Homo sapiens: one gene and its partners. The protein of the gene in region 1 purifies or fractionates together with the protein of each later gene. This does not show direct contact. Each region holds a gene or a part of one and is shown in the gene's direction. Other genes may lie near its edges. The genes, in order: ELFN2, TBC1D4, SIGLECL1, SLC31A1, RAB11FIP4, CTDSPL2 and TBC1D1.

The links.
Region 2: the proteins of ELFN2 (region 1) and TBC1D4 purify together in Homo sapiens (affinity purification with mass spectrometry; one large-scale study listed by BioGRID and IntAct). This does not show direct contact.
Region 3: the proteins of ELFN2 (region 1) and SIGLECL1 purify together in Homo sapiens (co-immunoprecipitation; one large-scale study listed by IntAct). This does not show direct contact.
Region 4: the proteins of ELFN2 (region 1) and SLC31A1 purify together in Homo sapiens (co-immunoprecipitation; one large-scale study listed by IntAct). This does not show direct contact.
Region 5: the proteins of ELFN2 (region 1) and RAB11FIP4 purify together in Homo sapiens (affinity purification with mass spectrometry; one large-scale study listed by BioGRID and IntAct). This does not show direct contact.
Region 6: the proteins of ELFN2 (region 1) and CTDSPL2 purify together in Homo sapiens (affinity purification with mass spectrometry; one large-scale study listed by BioGRID and IntAct). This does not show direct contact.
Region 7: the proteins of ELFN2 (region 1) and TBC1D1 purify together in Homo sapiens (affinity purification with mass spectrometry; one large-scale study listed by BioGRID and IntAct). This does not show direct contact.

What each region holds. Positions count from the first base shown.
Region 1 is NC_000022.11:37,371,980-37,375,479, reverse strand, and holds part of ELFN2 (protein phosphatase 1 regulatory subunit 29 precursor), read left to right. Parts: coding exon 1-2,408; 3' UTR 2,409-3,500. UniProt on the Homo sapiens protein: Inhibits phosphatase activity of protein phosphatase 1 (PP1) complexes.
Region 2 is NC_000013.11:75,283,170-75,286,669, reverse strand, and holds the end of TBC1D4 (TBC1 domain family member 4), read left to right. Parts: 3' UTR 1-3,167; downstream 3,168-3,500.
Region 3 is NC_000019.10:51,261,080-51,264,579, forward strand, and holds part of SIGLECL1 (SIGLEC family-like protein 1), read left to right. Parts: intron 1-2,803; 5' UTR 2,804-2,993; coding exon 2,994-3,015; exon of another isoform or gene 3,016-3,098; intron 3,099-3,500.
Region 4 is NC_000009.12:113,262,268-113,264,992, forward strand, and holds the end of SLC31A1 (high affinity copper uptake protein 1), read left to right. Parts: 3' UTR 1-2,225; downstream 2,226-2,725.
Region 5 is NC_000017.11:31,394,675-31,398,174, forward strand, and holds part of RAB11FIP4 (rab11 family-interacting protein 4), read left to right. Parts: intron 1-3,500. UniProt on the Homo sapiens protein: Acts as a regulator of endocytic traffic by participating in membrane delivery. Required for the abscission step in cytokinesis, possibly by acting as an 'address tag' delivering recycling endosome membranes to the cleavage furrow during late cytokinesis.
Region 6 is NC_000015.10:44,518,129-44,521,628, forward strand, and holds part of CTDSPL2 (CTD small phosphatase-like protein 2), read left to right. Parts: intron 1-1,040; coding exon 1,041-1,167; intron 1,168-3,182; coding exon 3,183-3,278; intron 3,279-3,500. UniProt on the Homo sapiens protein: Probable phosphatase.
Region 7 is NC_000004.12:38,135,584-38,139,083, forward strand, and holds part of TBC1D1 (TBC1 domain family member 1), read left to right. Parts: intron 1-1,551; coding exon 1,552-1,752; 3' UTR 1,753-3,500. UniProt on the Homo sapiens protein: May act as a GTPase-activating protein for Rab family protein(s). May play a role in the cell cycle and differentiation of various tissues.

The sequences.
Region 1 (3,500 bases):
CCGTGCGTGCCGACTGCTGGCTCATTGAGGGCGACAAGGGCTACGTGTGGCTGGCCATCTGCAGCCAGAACCAGCCGCCCTACGAGACCATCCCGCAGCACATCAATAGCACCGTGCACGACCTGCGGCTCAACGAGAACAAGCTCAAAGCCGTGCTCTACTCCTCGCTCAACCGCTTTGGGAACCTCACCGACCTCAACCTCACCAAGAACGAGATCTCCTACATCGAGGACGGTGCCTTCCTGGGCCAGTCGAGCCTGCAGGTCCTGCAGCTGGGCTACAACAAGCTCAGCAACCTGACGGAGGGCATGCTGCGAGGCATGAGCCGCCTGCAGTTCCTCTTTGTCCAGCACAACCTCATCGAGGTGGTGACGCCCACCGCCTTCTCCGAGTGCCCGAGCCTCATCAGCATCGACCTGTCCTCCAACCGCCTCAGCCGCCTGGACGGTGCCACCTTTGCCAGCCTCGCCAGCCTGATGGTGTGTGAGCTGGCCGGCAACCCCTTCAACTGTGAGTGCGACCTCTTCGGCTTCCTGGCCTGGCTGGTGGTCTTCAACAACGTCACCAAGAACTACGACCGCCTGCAGTGTGAGTCGCCGCGGGAGTTTGCCGGCTACCCGCTGCTGGTGCCCCGGCCCTACCACAGCCTCAACGCCATCACCGTACTCCAGGCCAAGTGTCGGAATGGCTCGCTGCCCGCCCGGCCCGTGAGCCACCCCACGCCCTACTCCACCGACGCCCAGAGGGAGCCAGACGAGAACTCGGGCTTCAACCCCGACGAGATCCTTTCGGTGGAGCCGCCGGCCTCGTCCACCACGGATGCGTCGGCAGGGCCAGCCATCAAGCTGCACCACGTCACGTTCACCTCGGCCACCCTGGTGGTCATCATCCCACACCCCTACAGCAAGATGTACATCCTCGTGCAGTACAACAACAGCTACTTCTCCGACGTCATGACCCTCAAGAACAAGAAGGAGATCGTGACGCTGGACAAACTGCGGGCGCACACTGAGTACACCTTCTGCGTGACCTCGCTGCGCAACAGCCGCCGCTTCAACCACACCTGCCTGACCTTCACCACGCGGGACCCCGTCCCCGGAGACTTGGCGCCCAGCACCTCCACCACCACCCACTACATCATGACCATCCTGGGCTGCCTCTTTGGCATGGTTATCGTGCTGGGAGCCGTGTACTACTGCCTGCGCAAGCGGCGCATGCAGGAGGAGAAGCAGAAGTCTGTCAACGTCAAGAAGACCATCCTGGAGATGCGCTACGGGGCTGATGTGGATGCCGGCTCCATTGTGCACGCCGCCCAGAAGCTGGGCGAGCCTCCCGTGCTGCCCGTATCTCGCATGGCCTCCATCCCCTCCATGATCGGGGAGAAGCTGCCCACCGCCAAGGGGTTGGAGGCCGGGCTGGACACACCCAAGGTAGCCACCAAAGGCAACTATATCGAGGTGCGCACAGGCGCCGGCGGGGACGGTCTGGCTCGGCCCGAGGATGACCTCCCGGACCTCGAGAACGGCCAGGGCTCGGCTGCAGAGATCTCCACCATTGCCAAGGAGGTGGACAAGGTCAACCAGATCATTAACAACTGCATCGATGCTCTCAAGCTGGACTCGGCCTCTTTTCTGGGAGGCGGCAGCAGCAGTGGGGACCCCGAGCTGGCCTTCGAGTGCCAGTCCCTCCCTGCAGCTGCTGCCGCCTCCTCAGCCACTGGCCCCGGGGCCCTGGAGCGGCCCAGCTTCCTTTCGCCTCCCTACAAGGAGAGCTCCCACCACCCACTACAGCGCCAGCTGAGCGCCGACGCGGCCGTGACCCGCAAGACCTGCAGCGTGTCGTCCAGTGGTTCCATCAAGAGCGCCAAGGTCTTTAGCCTGGACGTGCCCGACCATCCGGCCGCCACAGGGCTGGCTAAGGGCGACTCCAAGTACATCGAGAAGGGCAGCCCCCTCAACAGCCCGCTGGACCGGCTCCCGCTGGTGCCGGCGGGCAGCGGCGGGGGCAGCGGCGGGGGCGGGGGCATCCACCACCTGGAGGTGAAGCCGGCCTACCACTGCAGCGAGCACCGGCACAGCTTTCCCGCCCTGTACTACGAGGAGGGTGCCGACAGCCTGAGCCAGCGCGTGTCCTTCCTCAAGCCGCTGACCCGCTCCAAGCGTGACTCCACCTACTCGCAGCTCTCCCCCAGACACTACTACTCAGGGTACTCCTCCAGCCCCGAGTACTCATCCGAGAGCACGCACAAGATCTGGGAGCGCTTCCGGCCCTACAAGAAGCACCACCGGGAGGAGGTGTACATGGCCGCCGGTCACGCCCTGCGCAAGAAGGTCCAGTTCGCCAAGGACGAGGATCTGCATGACATCCTTGATTACTGGAAGGGGGTCTCCGCCCAGCAGAAGCTGTGACCCCCCCCTTCCTCCCTGGTGAGGTCGGAGCCAGAGGGCTGGGGGCCTTTTGGGGGAAGGGTCCAGGCGGCCAGGGCGGGGAGCAGACTCGGGGGCCAAGGCCCAGGAGAGGACGCACATGCAGACCCGCACGCACGCACGCACACACACACCTGACCACCACCCGACTGTGAACAAACCAACATCCGACAATAACGGACAGGAAAACAGAGACACATTTTCCTTAAAGTTTACAAACTGATACCGAAACCAGTCGTCTTTACTGTGCTGCCCAGGGACTCTGCTGGGGTGTGCAGGGCCGGGGGGCTGGCGGGGGGAGGAAGGAAGCCAAGAGAGGGTGTGGGGTCTGGGGGGTCTGGGGCTAGAAACAGGTGTGGGGGTCAAGAAAGCTGGAGTAGAGAGGGACTGAAGCCCCTCTAGGGCAGGGAGAGGGTCCCTTCCCAAGCTGGGAGTCAAGTCACCTGCAGATTTAGCATTAGACATCGGGCAATGTCTCCTTCCACTTTAGAGAGGGGGGGAAACTGAGGCCCAGAGAAGGGAGTTGACAACCCCAGGGTCACACAGCAGCTTAGCCTCAAGTCCCCCAACTTCCCAGCCCAGTGCTGTCCCGGAACCCCCTGCAGCTCTCTTGTGGACCCCTGCCCGCCCTGTGCCCACCCCACATCCCTTTCCGAAGCTGTGGTCCCTTGGGGCTGAGGGACTTGGGAATCAGGCAGGTGCTTTTTCTTCCTAGAAAGCCACATGGCAGTGCCCCCAGAGTGTGCAGCTGTGATTCAGAATCCTGGGGGGCTTTTGACCCCTATGCCGGCACCCGGGAGAAGGGAGAGGGTCCTGTTGACGGGAAAGGAGCCGAGGCAGGGCGACATTCCACCAGCCCACTTCAAGTGTCTTCCACGTGGCCTGGGAAGAGTGGGGCGTGTGGCGGGCAGGCCAGCTCCCAGGACGTCTCAGGTGCAGGCTCCCGGCCCCAGCTTCTCTGGTCCTCCGAGACCCCTGCCCACCGCAGAAGGGCAGCGGTGCACTGTGATGCCTGGAGGGCTGCAGGGAGGAGCTGTCATGGGGGACTTCCTGCCTGTCCCCATGGCCTGTGTC
Region 2 (3,500 bases), on another chromosome or scaffold:
CGCCTAGTCACAGCAGGTGGACCTCGTGCTCATCAGAGCATGCCAATCCTAAGCCATTGGACATATGTAGACTGGTTTTTGTTGTTGCTATGTACATATAAATATATATATAAAATGAACATAGTTCATGCTTTCAGATAAAATGAGTAGATGTATATTTAGATTAATTTTTTTAGTCAGAACTTCATGAAATCCACACCAAAGGAAAGGTAAACTGAAATTTCCCTTGGACATATGTGAAATCTTTTTGTCTTTATAGTGAAACAAAGCCAGAGCATCTTTGTATATTGCAATATACTTGAAAAAAATGAATGTATTTTTTTCTCCAAAGAACAGCATGTTTCACTCAATGGTGAAAAGGTGGAAACATTTATGTAACTTTATGTGTATCTGTCTTGATATCTACTGACATTGTCTATATGAGGAAAATGATTACTGGTCATGCTCCTGTGAGTTTTTTGGGAAGGTAGGGTCATTTCTCCCTGCCTGCTTTGTGCCAACTAGCATGTTGCATCTACATGCATTATGAGTCTGGTTAGGCATTACTTTAAACATACATAAAGAGACAGTAGGACATTGTGGCTGAGTCTACCCAGCTCAAGGTAAAGGAGAATGTTGCTAATTTTTTAGCAAACTAGACCAGCATTATTACTCAAACTAAAAATATCACACCTGAAAAATTTAATTTAGGACCTAAAATGTCTAGATTAGCTTTCTGCTTTTTTTATTTGAATAACTCATTCAGTTGTGAATGAATTCCTCTTTATTTGGTGCCACAGTCACCAAATGACAAGGATTTGCCACTTTCCCACCAAATTGTGAGTGCTTGTAATTTAGGTCTCTCTACCTTAAATTCAGTATAAGGAAACGTAATTATGATTGATTTTTTCCAAAGATGACAAGCTGTGTTGAAATACATTTTTTCTTTTGACCAATTGACAGAATCTAATAAGCTTTAATAATCTTCCCCTTTTATGTGAAAAGTTTTGAGAACTGTGAAATGTTTAGGAACAAACTGTTGAAATCCATTGGAAGGGAAAAAAGAAAGTGGTACCAGTGTTACCAGCTCAACTAAAACCTGCAATTCTGCATTTCAACTCTTCACTTCCTCAGCCTACAAATAGCTCATTAGATGACATTCACGCATGCTGGGTATAGGCAAGGAAAGTAATTTTCAAAGTACATTTGCAGTTCTCTTTTTCAGAGATGATTCTATGATAGTGCCTCTGAAAGTTGATGCAGCATTTTTGCCTTTCCAAAAAGTATTTATCCTCACTGCTTTTTGCAGTACTTGTATTTTCACAGATGGATTATCTGGGGTAATTTTCTTCAAAGGGAGTTTGTTATACACAGTGAAAATGTATTATAGAGTAGAATAGTAAAGCTCTAGGGGTTTCAGAAAGCTTTGATGAACAGATGACAAACATCTGAAACCCCCTCCGCACTGTTACCCAGTGTGTATATAATGACTTGTTATAGCTCAGTGTGCCCTTGAATCCATACAGTTTCTTAAAAGACAATAAAATCTTATTAATAAAGTTAATGTAACTTCTAAGTTCTAGAAAATGCTGATTCTGTCTGCCCCATTCAATTGGGGGCTACTAATTGATTTGTTGCTTGGATTTCCTGAGAATTTCTCTATTTGTAGGAGGGGTTTTTTCTTTTTACGGTCTGTTGATGACAATTACTTTATGGGTGTGATGCACCGATGGTAGCCAAGGAATCTGTTGGGGAAGTTCGGAAAGAAACCTTTTCTTTCTTTTATTCAGTTTAAAGTAAACTTTATCCTGGATGTTTAGAATCAACATTAAGAGTTATATTATGGTGTTCAGAGATTAAGCTGACTTGGATACAATATTTTCTTTTGAAAATGAATTTTCTTTTTCATTTGTGATTTTTAAAAAATGTTGCACCAGTTATGCTTCATGCATCGTTACATCTTCATCAGGTTAATGTAATGTCTAGTTCCTTTGCAATAAATATATTGCTGCAGCTTTCTTGACGTATACTGTTACTTTTCGGGAGAGAAGCAGCTCTTGGTTAGAGTCTTTTACTGCAGGGGTCCCTGGGTACCTGTCTGTGGCCTGTTATGAACCAGGCTGCACAGCAGTGGTGGGCATGCGAGCAAGCATGACTGCCTGAGCTCTGACTCCTGTCAGATCAGCCACGGCATTAGATTCTCATAGGAGCGCAAACCCTATTGTGAACTGTGCATGCAGGAGATCTATGTTTTGTGTTCCTTAAGAGAATCGAATGCCTGATGATCTGTCACTGTCTCCCATCATCCCCAGATGGGATCGTCTAGTTGCAGGAAAACAGTCAGGGTTCCCACTAATTCTACATTATGGTGAGTATATAATAATAATATGGTGAGGATATAATAATAATAATAGAAATAAAGTGCACAATAAATGTGCTTGAATCATTGAATCATCCTGAAACCATCCCCTGCCACCAGTCTGTGGAAAGATTGTCTTCCATGAAACCAGTCCCTGGTGTCAAGAAGGTTGAAGACCGCTGCTTTACAAGATCTGCATGGTGAAACCCCATCTCTAGGGAAAATACAAAAATTAGCCAGGCGTGGTGGTGTGCATCTGTAATCTCAGCTACTCAGGAGAGTAGGAGAGGCATATATTGCTACTTATAGGAGGCTGGAGAATAGTTTGAACCTGGGAGGCGGAGCTTGCAGTGAGCTTGCAGTGAGCCATCATGCCACTGCACTCTAGCCTGGGCCACAGAGTGAGACTTTGACAAAAAAAAAGAAAAACAAACAACCAAACAAAAAAGATCTGCATGGTTTGGATTGTACCTACTTAAAATTGCTACACAAATAATTCTTCCTAATAGAGTCAGACAACAAAGATAATTTAGGAGACATTTATGTAAGTACATTGTTACCATTTTTCAACTTACTTTCTCAATGGAGACTTTTGAAAGAAAAATATAAGCAACCACATTGACAGATTTGCATTCTACCCTTTTATTTTCCAGGCCCCCTCATAGATAGCAAGGGAGAGAGAGCCACAAGAAAATACAAAATTTTCCAACTGGACGCAGATAATTAAGAATTAAGGACATTTACTGATGGATGTGATATGAATGTTTTTATATAAAATATGCATCTCTTGGAGTATTCTCATGTATATTTGTAATCCAATAAAAATACACTGTATCTTCTTGCTAACTTTAGGACTAACACTTTTAACTATTTTTTGCTTAATGTAGTAGTTAAGCATTTTGAGAAGGAGGCACTGTAGGCTTAATAGTACAGTCTCTTAATATCCATGTTGACTTTTACCCATTTTGTCACTATTTCACCAATTATTTTTTCACAGTACCAGATTAGGAGTAAGAAATCTACCATCTGATGGCATGAAGTATTTAGTCCTTCTACCATGATGTGACACTCTCATTATATTACTCATTAGCTGTGATATAATGAGAAAAGCACGGGATTTAGGGTGAGAAGTTTTATATCTGTGTCTTGGTTCCACCACTTT
Region 3 (3,500 bases), on another chromosome or scaffold:
TTTTTGGACTATGTTAGTAGGCAAACACAAATTTTAAATATATACTTTATTCCTGTTAATGTCAGCTTATCATTAGGAGATATGCCATTCTATCTTTGGTAATGCCTTTTGCTTAAAGTCTGCTTTATGGGATGTTAATGTAGGTATGTCTACATTACCTGGCTTTCTGGTTGGTATTTGCTTGGTGTATGTTTTCATTCTTTGGTTTTTTCTTTTTTTCTTTTTTTGAGACGGAGTCTTGCTCTGTCGCCCAGGCTGGAGTGCAGTGGCATGATCTCGGCTCACTGCAAGCTCTGCCTCCCAGGTTCATGCCATTCTCCTGCCTCGGCCTCCTGAGTAGCTGGGATTACAGGGGCCCGCCACCACACCCAGCTAATTTTTTGTATTTTTAGTAGAGACGGGGTTTCACCGTGTTAGCCAGGATGGTCTGGATCTCCTGACCTCGTGATCCGCCCGTCTCGGCCTCCCAAAGTGCTGGGATTACAGGCATGAGCCACCGCTCCCGGCCCATTTGGTTTTTTAACTGTCCTTTACACTTATGCTTTGGTTGTGTCTTTTGTAAACAGCATGGAGTTTGGCTTTGCTTCTTTTTTCCAATATGATGATCTTAGATTCATAACTGGATAATTTAAGCCATTTATATTTAGTTAAATCACTGATGTATTGGAGTTTAAATCTAACATCTAGGTACATGATTTCTACTTGTCCCAACCGTTCTATTCTCTTTTGTATCCCTTCTGTTTGTTTCTCTGTCTTTATTTTCAAACAAGCTTTTAAATCAAAGTACAATTTTATACAGAGAAGTATTAATACAGATAGTAAGTATACAACTCAAATTATCACAAAGGGAGCAGACCAGTGTAACCACCACTGAGGTCAAGAAATAGAACATTAACAACACCCCAAACACTCCACTCATGTACTACACCATTCATTACCCCCTTTATCCTTGCTATGTTCTGGATGCAAGCACGTTGTATGTGTTGCAAGTATGTTCTCCAGCCCTGCAACTTGCATTTGTCCTCCTTAATGGTATCTTTTGATGCAGAAATTAATTCTGATACAGTCCATTTTATCCATATTTCCTCATAGCTAGTGCTTTTTGGCCCTTTTAAAGAAATATTTCCTTACCTAAAACTTACCAAGATACTCTCCTATGTTGTATTAAAGAATTCCACTGACCAATGTGGTAGCTACTAACTACATATGGCTATTGAGCCCTTATATTATGGCTAGTCTGAATTGAAGTGTGCTGTAAGTGTAAAATATATACAAGATTTTGAAGAGTGTATAAAGAATGTACCAAATCTTAACAATTTTGTGTTGATTGCATGTTGAAATATTGGGTTAGGTTCAATATGAATAACCTAGTGAATAACCTAGGTTTCTTTCACTAGGTTAAATGAAACATCATTAAAATTAATTTTACCCATTTCTTCCTTTTTAATGTGGCTGCTAGAAAATTTAAAATTATACATGTAGTCCACATTTATAGGTCACATTATATTTCTTCACACAGCACTGTTCTAGAAAAAAAGTCTAAGGACTTTCCCAATGTCCCTAGAAGTTATTTTTATGTATGACATGAGGTAGGGGTCTTATTTCCTTTTGCTGTATGGCTGTCCAGTTATTCTGACACAATTTATTCAAAAGAGAGTCCTTTAACTTCTATGCAGTGCCATATTTATCCTAAACCAAGTGATCACATATGTATAGGTATTTTTCTAACCATATAGCCTGTCCCATTGGTATTTTTATTTATCCTTGTGTCAATACCATACTCTATGAATTACTATGTATGTATGTATGTATTTTATTTATTTACTTATTTATTTTGAGATAAAGTCTTACTCTGTAGCCCAAAGCTACAGTGCAGTGGCGTGATCACGGCTGACTGCAGCCTTGACCTCCCTACCTCAGGTGATCCTCCCACCTTAACCTTTCAAGTAGCTGGGACTACAGGTGCGTACCACCACACCCAGATAATTTTTGTATTTTTTGTAGAAACGGGGTTTTACCATGTTGCCCACGCTGGAATTACTATGGATTTTTAAGTCATGATATCCAGTAGGAATTGGAATTGATCATTTTTTTGAGACAGGGTCTCGTGCTGTCTCTTTTTTAATAGAAATTTACTGAGAACAAATTTATTAAATAAATGTCTACATGGGATATAAAAGGGAACATTGTGCCATGCTATACAATGTTACTTACACCATTCATTTCAAATTTTATGGCAAAACAATTATACTGTGGTAGGGAGATGTTGTTTTACACTTCTCACCAAACTAAACATTATCATATTTTTCCTGAGAGAATGTCAACACTTTGCTATCTTAAGTGATCACACCACTGCAATCCAGACTGGGTGACAGAGAGAGAGAAAGACCCTGTCTCAAAAACAAAAACAAACCGGGCATAGTGGCTTATGCCTGTAATCTCAGCTGTTTGGGAGGCCAAGGCGGGTCAGGTGTTTGAGACCAGCCTGGCCAACATGGTGAAACCTCATCTCTACTAAAACTACAAAAATTATTTGGCCATGGTGGTGAATACCTGTAATTCCAGCTACTCGGGAGGCTAAGGCAGAAGAGTCGCTTGAACATGGGAGATGGAGATTGCAGTGAGCCGAGATCGAGCCACTGCACTCCAGCCTGGGCGACAGAGTAAGATTCCATCTCAAAAAACAAAAATAAAACAAAGAATAAAGCAGACATGACACTGAGGCTTCACAGACAATCTTAGTTGCCTCCCTGTCCGTACGTGCTCATGAGCCTCTCATCCCATATAATTCCTGCTTCTCCAGGTGAACAGGCCTTCACGATGACCAGAGACAGAAGCCCCTGACTTGGCTAAAGATACTTCTGCTCTCCCCATCCCCACATCCTCTTTCAGTTACGCATCACCTCACTCCTTCTGAACCATATGGTTCTGATGTCAGAGCCAGTGTAGTAAAGAGCTTCTGCTGTTCCTGAGAACTGTTGCTGCTGGAAGTGATGCTTCCACTGCTACAGCTGGGTAAGTAAGGTGAGAAGCAGCACTGGAGGTGTGTTTGGAAGCCAAGACTCCAGGGCCTGGGTGTTGGCAGGGCAGAGGATGGGCTATGGAGGCATGGAGAAAGAGGACATATGGGCATAAGTACCAAATAATCAACATGAATTAGACAGCTTCTGTGTGTCAGATTTTGACAGGGCTGGTGTGTCTGAAGCAAATAGCAAATTGGGCAAGGGAGAGGGATGGAGAGTGTAGGTGCTATGAAGGCATGAGAGCACTAGGAGCTGTTTCAGACATTACTGGAAGCCCTGAAGTTAAGTTTTTCAGTGTTTCTGTGGGCACACTTTGCCAGGTGGAAAAGACAATTCAGAGGACAGCCATAGAGGGGTCCGTACATGAGAGTCCCCCGCAGATTCCTCAACAGCGCCCCGCAAGTGACTCAGGTGAAGAGACCGAGATCAGGAGCTACTGGTTAGGGGAAAATTACCCCTTTCTTCCAGTAACCTCAA
Region 4 (2,725 bases), on another chromosome or scaffold:
TACATTACAAGTGGCCAAAACCCCTGTTCTCAGTGAAGAACCACATTGGATTTGTATTCTGTTCAGTTGTAGTCTACACTGCAGTCTTATTCCTGGTTCAAACTACCTCTTTAAATTGATTTGTCTTGTGCTGGTCTGTTAAATCCTGCCCTCCTTGGTGCTAGATCCAGTTGTGCCTCAGGGCAGAGGAAACAAAACACAGCTATCCTGTTGGCCTGTGTTGTGGTTTTGAAGTTTGTACTTTCTCTGTGGGTGCCAGTTAAATATTGGAGAGCAAGGAATGTGGACTTGTATGGCTTTGAACCAAGAGAGGGTTATGAGCCTACTGGATTGAGGTTAAAATCCAAGAACCAACATTTAGAGCTTTGTGCTTTTCTCTCATTCCATCACTTTGTAATGATGATACTTAACATGAGCAGGGTGAATGACAGGTACTGACGAAGTCCAACACAAAGGTATAATACAGCCTGTTGTCTAAAGCCAAGGAGTCATAAAACCATGAGAAATAAATAGGAATCAATAGTTAGTAGTGACATTGGTGCTCTCTAGAAATCTCAGCATGAGCTGCTATAGAATACCCTCCCAGCAACAAAACCTAATCAGTAAGGCCAGCTAGACCCAATGGCTCATGCCTGTAATCCCAACACTTTGGGAGGCCAAGGTGGGAGGATGGCTTGTGTCCAGAAGTTCGAGACCAGCCTGGACAACATAGTGAGATCCTATCTCTATAAAAAATCAAAAATTAGCCAGGCATGGTGGTGCATACCTATAGTCCTGGCTATTTGGGAGGCTGAGGCAGGAGGATTGCTTTAGCCCTGGAGGTCGAGGCTGCAGTAAGCCATGATTGCGCCACTGCACTCAGCCCGGGTGACAAAGCAAGACCCTGTCTCAGAAAAAAAGAAAATTCAAGGCCAGTTAAGACAAAATGCTATGACTTTGAAATTCACAGAAAGAAATAACAGTTTAGATTAGGTCTTCAGGTATTCAGGATAGAGATAATCTCCTGAAAAACCTGAATTTCAGAGATTCTTAGACTGGCTGCCAAAGGATGAAGCTAGTGAAGGAGAAAAAGCTTAAATTCCATCTTGAGCTCTTGGATTGTGATAATACAATGATTTCATTAACTTTTCATTTCTGTATACCTGTTCATTTGGAATTTAATGCTTGACTTCTTTGTTCATTTTGGATCTAAACTTCTCTTTTCTTCCTTCCCCATTCACATCTATTAGAAGACTGCATCACCATTTCTTTGGCCCCCTTACTCTGTTGTCCTTTCCCTTTTCTTTCAGTTTTTTTAATCGCATGTCTAGTATATTAAGTCTCCATAGCCCTCCTGATGCAGTAGACAGTGCTATGCTGTGGATATAATACCAACCAGAAATTGGCATTTATAAACCTGTTAAGAGACTTTAAGCATGCTTCAAGAGGCAGTTGACCCACTGGAATTTCTATAAGGCTGGTACCCTTCCCAGAGTTACAGAATCTTAGGTGCCGTCTCTAGTCTGTGAGGGAGGAACTCCCAGCATCCCCATTGCCCACAAATGGAATCCTCACTGTATCCACTAGGAGATTAGAAATTAAGGTTTCTTCACTACTTCTATGGTAGGGTTGTCTGAAATTCCCTTTCAGGCTGTGGGTACTGGTCTTGGGTTCTAGTCATAAGGGGTTCCTTATAAGGAGCAGGCGGAGGGGAGTACACTTTCATGTGATTTAATTTTGATCCTGCCCTCTCCAGCTGCTCCTTCAAAAGATACATCAAAAGATAGAAACTCTGGGCTGGGCACAGTGGCTCACACACTTTGGGAGGCCAAGCGGGGGTGCAGATCACCTGAGGTCAGGAGTTTGAGACCAGCCTGGCCAATGTGGTGAAACCCCATCTCTACTAAAAATACAAAAATTAGCTGGGCGTGGTGGTGCATGCCTGTAATCCCAGCTACTCGGGAGGCTGAGGCAGGAGAATCGCTTGAACCCAGGAGGCGGAGGTTGCAGTGAGCCAAGATGGCGCCATTGCACTCCAGCCTGGGCGACAAGAGCAAAACTCCGTCTCAAAAAAAAAAAAAAGATACAAAGTCTGCATTTGATATAATGCCTTAATTACTGGGTCTACAATTAATGTTGACTGTTTTAGATTGTAAGCTCCTGGAGAGCAGTATTGCTGTAGTAGGAATGTTTTAACAGTGTCATATGAAAAAGAACAAAATAAATATTTTGATTTTGTGATTCTATGCAAGTCTTTCTGCCCAGAGTGATAATGCAATAAGCTAGTCTTTTCATAGTCTGCATAGAGTCTGGCCATTACCATCAGTTTTTAAGATGTCCATATTGTGGCCGGGCGCGGTGGCTCACGCCTGGTAATCCCAGCACTTTGGGAGGCTGAGGCAGGTGGATCATGAGGTCAGGAGATCGAGACCATCCTGGCTAACACGGTGAAACCCGTCTCTACTAAAAAAAATATTAAAAAATTAGCCAGGCCTGGTGGTGGGCGCCTGTAGTCCCAGCTACTTGGGAGGCTGAGGCAGGAGAATGGTGTGAACCCGGAAGTCAGAGGTTGCAGTGAGCCAAGATTGCACCTGGGCAACACAGCGAGACTCCGTCTCAAAAAAAAAAAAAAAAAAAGATGTCCGTATTTTAGGTGGTATGATCCTTTTAGGTTTTCATCTCACTCTCCCCCTACTCGACTTAAAATGACATGCCTAGTACATGCCAGAAGATCCATGTGACCTTC
Region 5 (3,500 bases), on another chromosome or scaffold:
CTACCTCTATCACTCTCAGCTGTGCTGCTGCCTGCGGGCTGGAGAAGCAGTGCTTGGTGTGTCTGAATCCACAAGGCTGGTTAAACATTGCAGGGCAGGACCATGGACAGGGCCCCGAGGCACTTGTAGGGGTGGTTTTCGGCTTATGCTGTATTGACCGAGACCCGTGGAAATATATTTTGCATCTCTACTCACTACCCATCTTATCCCCTGATGCATTAAAAAATCGGAGTGTTGTTTTCCAGCGGTGGGGTGGCGGGGGGCGGGGGGGGGGGGCTCCCTTACGAAATGCAGTGTACTCTGACTGTTTCTATTTTATTTGTTTTAAAATCAGGCAGTGACATTGATTTCCCAGCCACTTGTGCTCTGGGATGGATAATGATCATTCATTAGATATGTAGTTCAGTGAACTTAGAGCTGATTGTCCACAGTTTACCACCTACCCCCAGAATACCAGGGATACCAGGATCAAATGCTTTGCAAAAACCAAAATATACTAGGTCATAAAGTATGAAATAAATATCCATGAGGCCATAATGAAATATATATATGTATAAATTATTGAACAGATGATAATAAATAAATAGGAAAATCTCTCGTATAGAAGAAATCTGAATAACGTATGTTGATAATTGCCCCATTGAGGAAGTGAAGCATAACGTCCCACCGTGTAAGCATGAGATGTGCGTAGTGGCTTCCTTATAAAGGGTAGAGTTTGGAAAGTGGGGGGAACAGCAACTGTATAGTGGAGAAACCCAACAAACACTGTCTCAGAAGGTGATCAAGGACAACATCGATAGTGACAGATTGTGATGATGGCATACACCCTTGGTGTGATGTGGTGAGAATAGAACTTTTCCTCTGTGGTCTTCCTCCCAAACCAGTAATCCCAGTCTAGTCCTGAGAAAAATGCCAGACAAATCCCATCCGAGAGGCATTCTACAAAATGCCTGATTAGGACCTCTCAAAATTGTCAAGGTCATCCAAAACAAGGAAATTTTGAGACACTGTCAGAGCCAAGTGGAGACTAAGGAGGCAGCTGACTAAATGCAGTGTGGTGTCCTGGATGGGACCCTAGAATCAAGAAGAGGACATTAGGTAAAAACTAAGGAAGTCAGGATCAAGTATGAATGTTACTTAATAATGTTATTTATGGATTAGGTTAGTCCCTGATAGTTCCCTACTTTGTTGACCTAGGTATCACAGCAGAAAAGAGGAGACAATGGGCCGGGCGTGGTGGCTCATGCCGGTAATCCTAACACTTTGGGAGGCTGAGGTGGGAGGATCACTGGAGCTCAGGAGTTCCACACCAGCCTGGGTAACATGGTGAGACCCCCCATCTCTACAAAAAATACAAAAATTAGCCCGGTGTAGTGGCGTGCACCTGTAATCCCAGCTAGTTGGGAGACTGAGGCAGGAGAATCGCTTCAACCTGGGAGGCGGAGGTTGCAGTGAGCTGAGATTACATCGCTGCACTCTAGCCTGGGTGACAGAGTGAGACCCTGCCACAAAAAAAAAAAAAAGAAAAGAAAAGAAAAGAAAAGAAAGAAATGCAGATTTTTGAGGGATGGGGGCACACCACTGCCCTGATCCTGAAAGTCTACAATGCCAGGGAGCAGGACTCTGATAAGTATGTAACATGATGGCTCAACATCCTGACCCTGTGTTGCCTTCTGATATATTGCATTGTCTCCCTAACCTCTTTAGGCCTCTATTTACTCATCCATCAAATGGGGCTGATCAGAGTCCCCATTCTATAGGGTTATTGTGGGGTTTGAGTGAGTTAATACATACAAAGGGCTTAGTCCAGTATCTGCACAGAGTAGGCATAATATCAGAATTGCTGGTGCTCTCCTTGTCATTATTATTATTTTCTAAACACTTGCAAGCATTTTTGAGAGGCTGTTCTAGGCTGGAGATTTGCTAGGAATTGAGGTCAAGATCTGGCACCGGCCTCTGTGTGCTCAACTCACCCTCCTTAACCAGCTGTGGTGTTCCTGCCCCTCTTACGTCCCCTCGGCAGTCAGAATGGTAGACATTGAAAGCAGCCAGAGATGTCCTGGACCACACTTCCCTGTGACATGGTCCTCTTCCCTTTCCAGTTTGAAGACCGTCCTTCTTGCTAGAAAAATAGAAATAAGAATCACCAAGTAGGCCTCTCCCATGCATTAACACAGCACCATCTCCTCTGGACAGTGGGCCTGTCCTGCCTGCTTGGAAATGAAATGATGGTCCCCACTGGGCTCCCTGAGTCCTCAGGTCCCCTCTGAGCTAATGCCTGCTATGGGGGAATTGCTAGTGCCACTTGGGTTAAGCCTGGGTCTTTGAAATGGCAAAGGGGTTGGGGTGCTAGGATGGGCTGAGACCGGCCAGGAGCCAGCCCTGGGGCTGGGATCGATGTCTTTTGAGATACGTGGCTTCCAGGAACAGGAGCACCTGGAACTAAAGCTCCTCTGCTCAGGAGTAGCAATTGGATAACAGGGAAGAAACAACTGTATCCCCACAGCTGTGGCTGGAGGAAGGGGTGAAGGGGAAGGTAGGGCCAGATCAGTGGTTCCCTGTAGGCAGTGAGACCTAGGCAGCCAAGAGTGGATGTGTATGAGAGAACAGGGGATGGGGAGCAGGATTGGAGGCAGGAGGCCTCCTCGGGACTGTGGCACATGGTAAGAGAGGAAGAGCATCCTAACTTGGGCAGTGGCGGGGGGTGCAGAATTGACAGGGGCCTGGAAGGCCGGCAAAGTCCCAACGAGCTACTCCCAAAAGGTGATAGTTAAAGGTGCTCTTTTGAGACCAGGCAACCTCTATGTGCCCCACCCTAATGAGGCTACCATGCAGAGTGACAAGGCTGGCACATCAGAAGGAAGGCCCAGGTGCCCTGAGCCTGGCAGAAAAGGTGGGAGTGCCTGGGACCTGAGGTGGAAGCAGGACAAGAGTGAGCCCAGAGAGATGTTCTCTTTCCTATGCTTCTGGGAAACTGTGCTCCTGAGGTTGGAGGTCATCATGGAAGTGGGGCCAGGGCTGGGGATCCCTTGGGGCCTGGGGATGGGCATGTGGCACCACACTCTGCATTGAGGCGGGAGGACGAGTCCTAGCTGGGGCACCCTCTGGCCTCTTGTGCCCACCAGTTTGGCTGTGCTGGGAGGAGGCCAGATGCAGAAAGTCTGCTGGGACTCATCCATCTTATCAGACACGCCCCTGCCTTTTTTTTTTTTTTTAATTGAAACAGGCTCTCGCTTTGTAGCTCAGGCTGGAGTTCAGGGGTGCATCATGGCTCACTGCAGCCTCGAGCTCTTGGGCTCAAACCGTCCTCCTGCCCCAGCCTCCCAAGTAGCTGGCACTGCAAGTATATGCCACCATGCTCAGCTAATTTTTTGTCAGACACTTTTTTTTTTTGAGACGGAGTCTCACTCTGTCACCCAGGCTGGAGTGCAGTGGCTCGTTGCAACCTCCAACTCCGGGGTTCAAGCGATTCTCTCACCTCAGCCTCCCGAGTAGCTGGG
Region 6 (3,500 bases), on another chromosome or scaffold:
TAGAAAATACCAGTTTCTTGAAATTGCATAATTTAAAATACAGGTCCAAATAGGTCCTAGATTTTGTAAAATTGTTAGTGTGATTAAGACACAAGGAAGACAACTTACCAATTATTAATATATACAGAATAGAGTACTTCAAGGTAGAAAAAAATTATATGAAACAATTATTAGTAATGTTCAGAGACTAGTATTTTGAGTATAAATTGAGATTATAATAATCACTTTAGTATTGTAAAACCTTTAATAGCTTTCTAAAATGATGTAGTATTTTTCTATGTGAGTGAAATATCAGTTTACATTTATAATACTTGATACTTAAATCTGAATTCCTCATTTCACTTAATCTTTTTTCAAATGATCATACACATATACTAAAAGAGGGGTGTTTAGGAAAAGTTGAAATGATGGAATGTTTTGGTCTTAGGACCTTTTCTCAAAAAAAATAAGGAAATCTAAAAAGCATTTTTTCAAATGCCAACACAAAAACATTCCTTCTTATATTTTCTATTCTGGCATGTACAGGGATAGGGAGGCTGTGTGGTCCACTGGTTAGAGCCAAGGACTGGGAGCCAGGAGGATCCTGGGTTCCAATGCGGGGCTAACCACTGACTTACTGTGTGACCTTGGGCAAGTCACTTGACCTCCTTGTTCCTCAGTCAACCATCTGGAAAATTGGTTAAAAAGCAGGACCTCGCTGACAACCAGATGCTGCATCTGAGCTGAGCTTTCTTGGGTAAATAAATTACAAAAACAATTTAGAGTTTTTAATCCCCCTTTATAATTTAATAATAACATTTTGGGATAAACTCAAGTTCTTTAAGGCATAGTAATATTTGGTTGTAAGCTTTCAGTAATTGCTTAGAATTTTTATAGTAAAATGGCAGCCCAACGCTTAGACCCATATTTGTGTTTGAATTTCCTTCAAGAGAGAAAATCATATGGCTTAAACTATAAAGCCTATGGTGTATATATATGTGTATATGTTCTACTTTTTAGAAAGTTTTTTTTTTTTAATTTGTTTTTATTTTTATGTTTAGGCACCGGCTTTTCCGTGAACATTGTGTTTGTGTACAAGGAAACTATATAAAGGACTTAAATATTCTTGGAAGAGATCTTTCAAAAACTATAATAATTGACAACTCACCACAAGCCTTTGCATATCAGGTAGGAAGAAAGTTGATAAACAAACTCAGATTGGAAAAAATACAATGAAGACACATGCTGCCAAACAGAATATGATGGGAGAAGAAGAAGAGAATTTTCACTGGTGGAATTTCCCTTTAATGTGTCATTTTTTTAGAATTAGAAATGACAAAGTGGTATATTCCTTTTGGAAAATTTTTACTTAAATGACATGCAGCATAAATGAAGAAAAACCTGAGTAAGAAAACTATAAGATAAGCATCATTGAATAGCATTCTTATCAGTTATTAAATCAGTAATTAGTAATTTAATCATAAACATATTTGAGTACTATAGTTAGTTTATGTTCTTCTGGTCTGGTTATTTGGTTTAATGTTCTGAAATATTTTCTTAGACTATTTTGTCAATATATTTGTACCCTTTGTTAATATTTCTTTGACGTATAACTACAAATGTAGATGAGTCATCCTTCCTTCCTTTTGTTTTTTTGTTTTTTTTTGTTTTTGTTTTTTGAGAAGCAGTTTCACTCTTGTTGCCCAAACTGGAGTGGAGTGCAATGGCGTGATCTTGGCTCACTGCAACCTCCGCCTCCTGGGTTCAAGCGATTCTCCTGCCTCAACCTCCCGAGTAGCTGGGATTACAGGTGTCTGCCACCACGCCTGGCTAATTTTGTATTTTTAGTAGAGACGGGGTTTCTCCATGTTGGTCAGGCTGGTCTCGAACTCCCGACCTCAGGTGATCGCCTGCCTCAGCCTCCCAAAGTGGTGGGATTACAGGTGTGAGCCACTGCGCCTGCCTGATGAGTCATCCTTTCAAGGTATATTTTAGATTATGAATATGTCCATGTGATATGATTTCTTTTTTCTTTTTTTTGTTTTCCTTTTTTTTTTTTTGAGACGGAGTTTTGCTCGTCGCCCAGGCTGGAGTGCAGTGGCACGATCTCAGCTCACTGCAGCCTCCACCTCCCGGGTTCGTGATTCTCCTGCCTCCACCTCCTTAGTAGCTGGCACTACAGGTGCGCGCCACTATGCCGTGCTAATTTTTTTGTATTATTAGTAGAGACGGGGTTTTGCTGTGTTGGCCAGGCTGGTCTCGAACTTCTGACCTCAGGTGATCCCACCTGTCTCAGCCTCCCAAAGTGCTGGGATTACAGTTGTGAGCTACCACACCCAGCCCCATGTGATAGGATTTCTTAGATTTGCTTCACAATAAGCCAGTCCAGAATAGGGATGATGCAAAGTGGATTGGAGTATAAACTAGATTTGTCCTGTGTTTCAAAATGTCTATAATAAAAAGAAAACAAGTGAAAAGCTGTATATGATACTAAGTTATATTTAGGTCCTTACTTTTATTTGTTTACATTTAAAAATGTCTTTTAAGAATTTCATCTTGGTTCCTAGTTAAAATTATATCAATTATCCTCCATCTCATATACAACATTTAGCCTAAATTTTAAAACATTTTATCCCAGAGATTATTCACCATAAAATAAATATGGCTTGCATTCTTGTTTTTAGGCTCCTCTTCAATGAAATACCATTAATTTGTTAAGTTTCTACTATATTTCAAGTTATCATCCTACTCGATGGGAATAGAATAATGAATGGGAGATATGGTCACTGTATTTAAGGGGAAAAAAAAGTATAGGCTTTTCTATATTCTCTTTAGATTGGCAGTGTCCCATCATTCACAGTGCCTACCTAGCATTGTACTAATTGTAACTATTTCTTGAAGGAATAATGGAATATTTTATTTATATTAATGATCCTTATAAAATGTATTTTAATGGAACTTTCTTGTTTAGTTTTATATACTCTGAGAAGAAATGACACTGAAAAACCAATAGGCTTCAATTTATTTCCTTATCCTCTGTCTCTTGCACTATTGAGTTGTCAAAGAAAAGTCTGGTGACATTACTTTTCAAAGGAACTTTTAGATCAGTGTTTACTTAATAAATCTTTGTTTATTTTTTAACTTTTTCCAAACTAGGTAAAATATAAGTAAAAGAGGATTTAATTACTTATTTATTGTTTTAGCTTTCTAATGGAATCCCTATAGAAAGTTGGTTTATGGATAAAAATGACAATGAACTCCTAAAATTGATTCCATTCCTGGAGAAGCTTGTAGAACTGGTAAGTGTAGCTTATCTTTTTCTGTTGTGTTTTTGTTAGCTCAACTATATTGAAATAAATATTTTTAAATGTCTTTGCTTTGTGTGTACTGACTTATAAAGTCAACTGTGAGCCAGGTCACAGGTGCCATCATAGGCGCCTGTAGTGCCAGCTACTTTAGAGTCTGAGGCAGGAGGATTGATTGAGCCTAGGAATTTGAGGTCATACTAGGCAACATAGTGA
Region 7 (3,500 bases), on another chromosome or scaffold:
GGGCTTCAAAGTGATGAGGGTAGGCCCTGAGCCAGGCCCTGACGATGGGTGGATTTTGAGGATCAGAGAGTACAGCTTAGAGAGATACCCCAAGTGGGACCACCCCTTGCCCAGTAGGCTGACAAACTAAGGCTCTTGGTCCCTTTTTCATATTTTGGGTGTTCTAGTGGCCCAGCCAGAGCTAGACTTCGAGTCATGAATTTTCTGGCACAAGTGTTGTCACATTCAAAAAAGTATTTTCTTTGTTTGAAAAATGAAAAATATATATATATGTGTGTGTGTATATATATGTGTGTGTGTGTGTATATATGTGTGTGTGTATATATACGTGTGTGTGTATATGTGTGTGTGTGTGTGTGTGTGTGTGTGTATATATGTGTATATATATACCATTTTTCCCACCTAAAATGGAGCATGGCAAATCTGGACTGGATTAGTGAGATAGACCAAGTCACAGAGCACTCCAGGATGCAGCTGTGAGCTGGGGAACAGGTCAGAAAGGCCTCAGGGACATCAGCATACATGTTGGAGTTTCTGCAGTTTTCTTAGGGAACCCTTTAATGTCACTAGAGCTAACACACTTGTCACCTGGGAAGCAAGCCTGCCAGAGCAAATTAGAGAGACGAGGGACAGTTGCTAGAAAGATACACCTGGAAGTTCTATTTAACTAGCATTAATTATGTGCTAGGTGCTGAGGATGTAGACTGAGTGAGATCCTCATTCCTCCTCTGTAGGGTGGAAGAGAGGATATTGCTTGTCTCCATGGCTCGTAGTGAACAGTCAGTGAGACCAGGCACATAAACCTCTTAGCAGAACACTTGGCCTTTCTAAGGACTCCATATGTGTTCCGGGGTAAATGCCTGTGTTTCTTGACGTAGTGATGTCTTGTTCCTCTAGACATCACTAACTTTACACAGTAGCTTTAGATGGCGTGGACGTGAATAAATGCAACTTAGGTTTTCTTGTTGGTTTCTTTTTGAGTATCATTGTGTTTGTAAAGAATTTCAGATTAGAGGATTGTTACCACGTGGGCCTTCAGGAGGAAACTGTTTTGAGTTTTTGTCAGCCCGAAATCGATTTGTGCGTTTAAGTATATGTGCTCATCAAAACAGGCCAGGCTCTGCTGCAGTAACAAACTTACAAGTCTCCGAGGCTTGGCACAACGGAAGTCTTTGTGTCACTGACGCCCACTTCAGCTTTGTGTTGCTGAAGCATTCTTTGGCCCTATCCAAGCTGTCCCTCTGGTGGTGGTGCCTGGGGGTTTGGGTTCCCTCTGTGTTGTGATCCACCATCTCAGCATCGGCTTCCACAGCAGCCATAGCAGGAGAAGAAAATGCTGGGGGCTCTCAGGGTGCTTTTAAGGGCCTGGCCACCGACCTGCAAGGGGTGCGAGTTGCCTTCCTGTGTGGCCAGAACTGATGATAAACTGTAGACTCATCCCTGCTGAAACTCGGCTCCAGAGTGCTCCCAAGGCTGGACAGCGTGTGGGCACTGGATCCCACCTGTGTTAGCACTGGCAATTGTATTCTCATTTCTTCTTTTATTCTCCAGGTGGCAAATGGTAGGATCCAAAGCCTTGAGGCCACCATTGAGAAGCTCCTGAGCAGTGAGAGCAAGCTGAAGCAGGCCATGCTTACCTTAGAACTGGAGCGGTCGGCCCTGCTGCAGACGGTGGAGGAGCTGCGGCGGCGGAGCGCAGAGCCCAGCGACCGGGAGCCTGAGTGCACGCAGCCCGAGCCCACGGGCGACTGACAGCTCTGCAGGAGAGATTGCAACACCATCCCACACTGTCCAGGCCTTAACTGAGAGGGACAGAAGACGCTGGAAGGAGAGAAGGAAGCGGGAAGTGTGCTTCTCAGGGAGGAAACCGGCTTGCCAGCAAGTAGATTCTTACGAACTCCAACTTGCAATTCAGGGGGCATGTCCCAGTGTTTTTTTTGTTGTTTTTAGATACTAAATCGTCCCTTCTCCAGTCCTGATTACTGTACACAGTAGCTTTAGATGGCGTGGACGTGAATAAATGCAACTTATGTTTTCTTGTTGGTTCCTTTTTGAGTGTCACTGTGTTTGTAAAGAGCATTCACAATACGGTGGAATTTCAAAAGCTGGAAGAGCTCGAGATCATGCCTCAGGCAAAGGCGTGGGTCCATCGTTCTTCCGAGAGGGTTTGTGTGGCGACTACACCCTCAGCGTCCCTGGCAAGGTGCAGTTGGCTCTCGCCCATTCTTGTTATGGAAACCTAAGATGATCATTGGGAAGATCAGTGATCTTGGGTCATTGATCCCTGGCTCAGAGGATAGCGGTTTCCATCATAAACCAAGATGATGAGTTCAGCCTTTATCCCTCGTGGTTCCACTAGATGTAACTTAAAGGAGTTAACATTTGAGGACTTTGTTCTACATCAGATTTTACTATTTGAATGTTTAAGATCACTTTATTGAATTTGAAGATCATCAAATTAAATAAAATGATTTATTTAATTTGGATATCCTGATCACTGTCAAGTGAAATGGATCTCTCTCTTTGGTATTTAAGGAAGTTTGTCTTTAAAAAAAAAATAGAGTGTTTTCATACATTTTTGCTTATCCCATAAGTACAGTTGATCAAAGTCATAGTAGGTAAATGCTTTATGGGACAGCTGACACCTTTTAGACCCTACCAGGTATTGCTAGCATGTGAGCTGCAGTTGTGGGGTCTGAGATATTTCTTTGTGGTAGTTTCATACCCATACTATAGAGTCATGTATTTATTTTTGCCTGTTGTGTGATGTAATGCAATCATGTTCCTTTGAGTCTCCATCCCTTGGAAATCTGACTTCTTGCAGAAGGAGTAGGCACATCAAGATATTCAGGGGTGCCCCAAGAGTCTGGGACTTTCAAAAAAAAAAGATCAGGCTGAAACTGCAGTCAGATTTATGACAGCTGACAGTTTTTCAGAGGTCGCACACAGTGACTCTCCTCTCTCAGGATGACGAGGACCTGTGCCTTCAACAAGCAAAATGCTGCTCACGGTTGTCCTGCTTGCAGCCAGTCACTGTGTAAAGCCTCTCTGATGTGCACTTAAGAGTGGGTTGCTTTCTCACAAAGATGGGGTTCTGTGCAGTCACAGGTCACTTCCTTGACAACACAATCATTTCTGATCTTTATCACTGTAACCACGTCTTCTATTCCATAGGAGTTTCTTTTGATTCTCTCAGTTGCGGGGGGCATCTCTTAATCCTGGGGTAAAAGGAGAGATTGCCATACTTAGACTCACTGTGAGTCTCCCCGGCCATTTCACGAGGAGACCACAGTGCTGCCACCAGTGCCTAAACAGGTGGCTGGCATTCGAGACTTCCTCCTGTTCCCTGGGTCAGAGGATAGCGGTTTCCATCATAAACCAAGATGATGAGTTCAGCCTTTATCCCTCGTGGTTCCGCTAGATGTAACTTATAGGAGTTAACATTTGAGGACTTTGTTCTGCATCAGATCTTACTATTTGAATGTTTACTGTTGGATTTT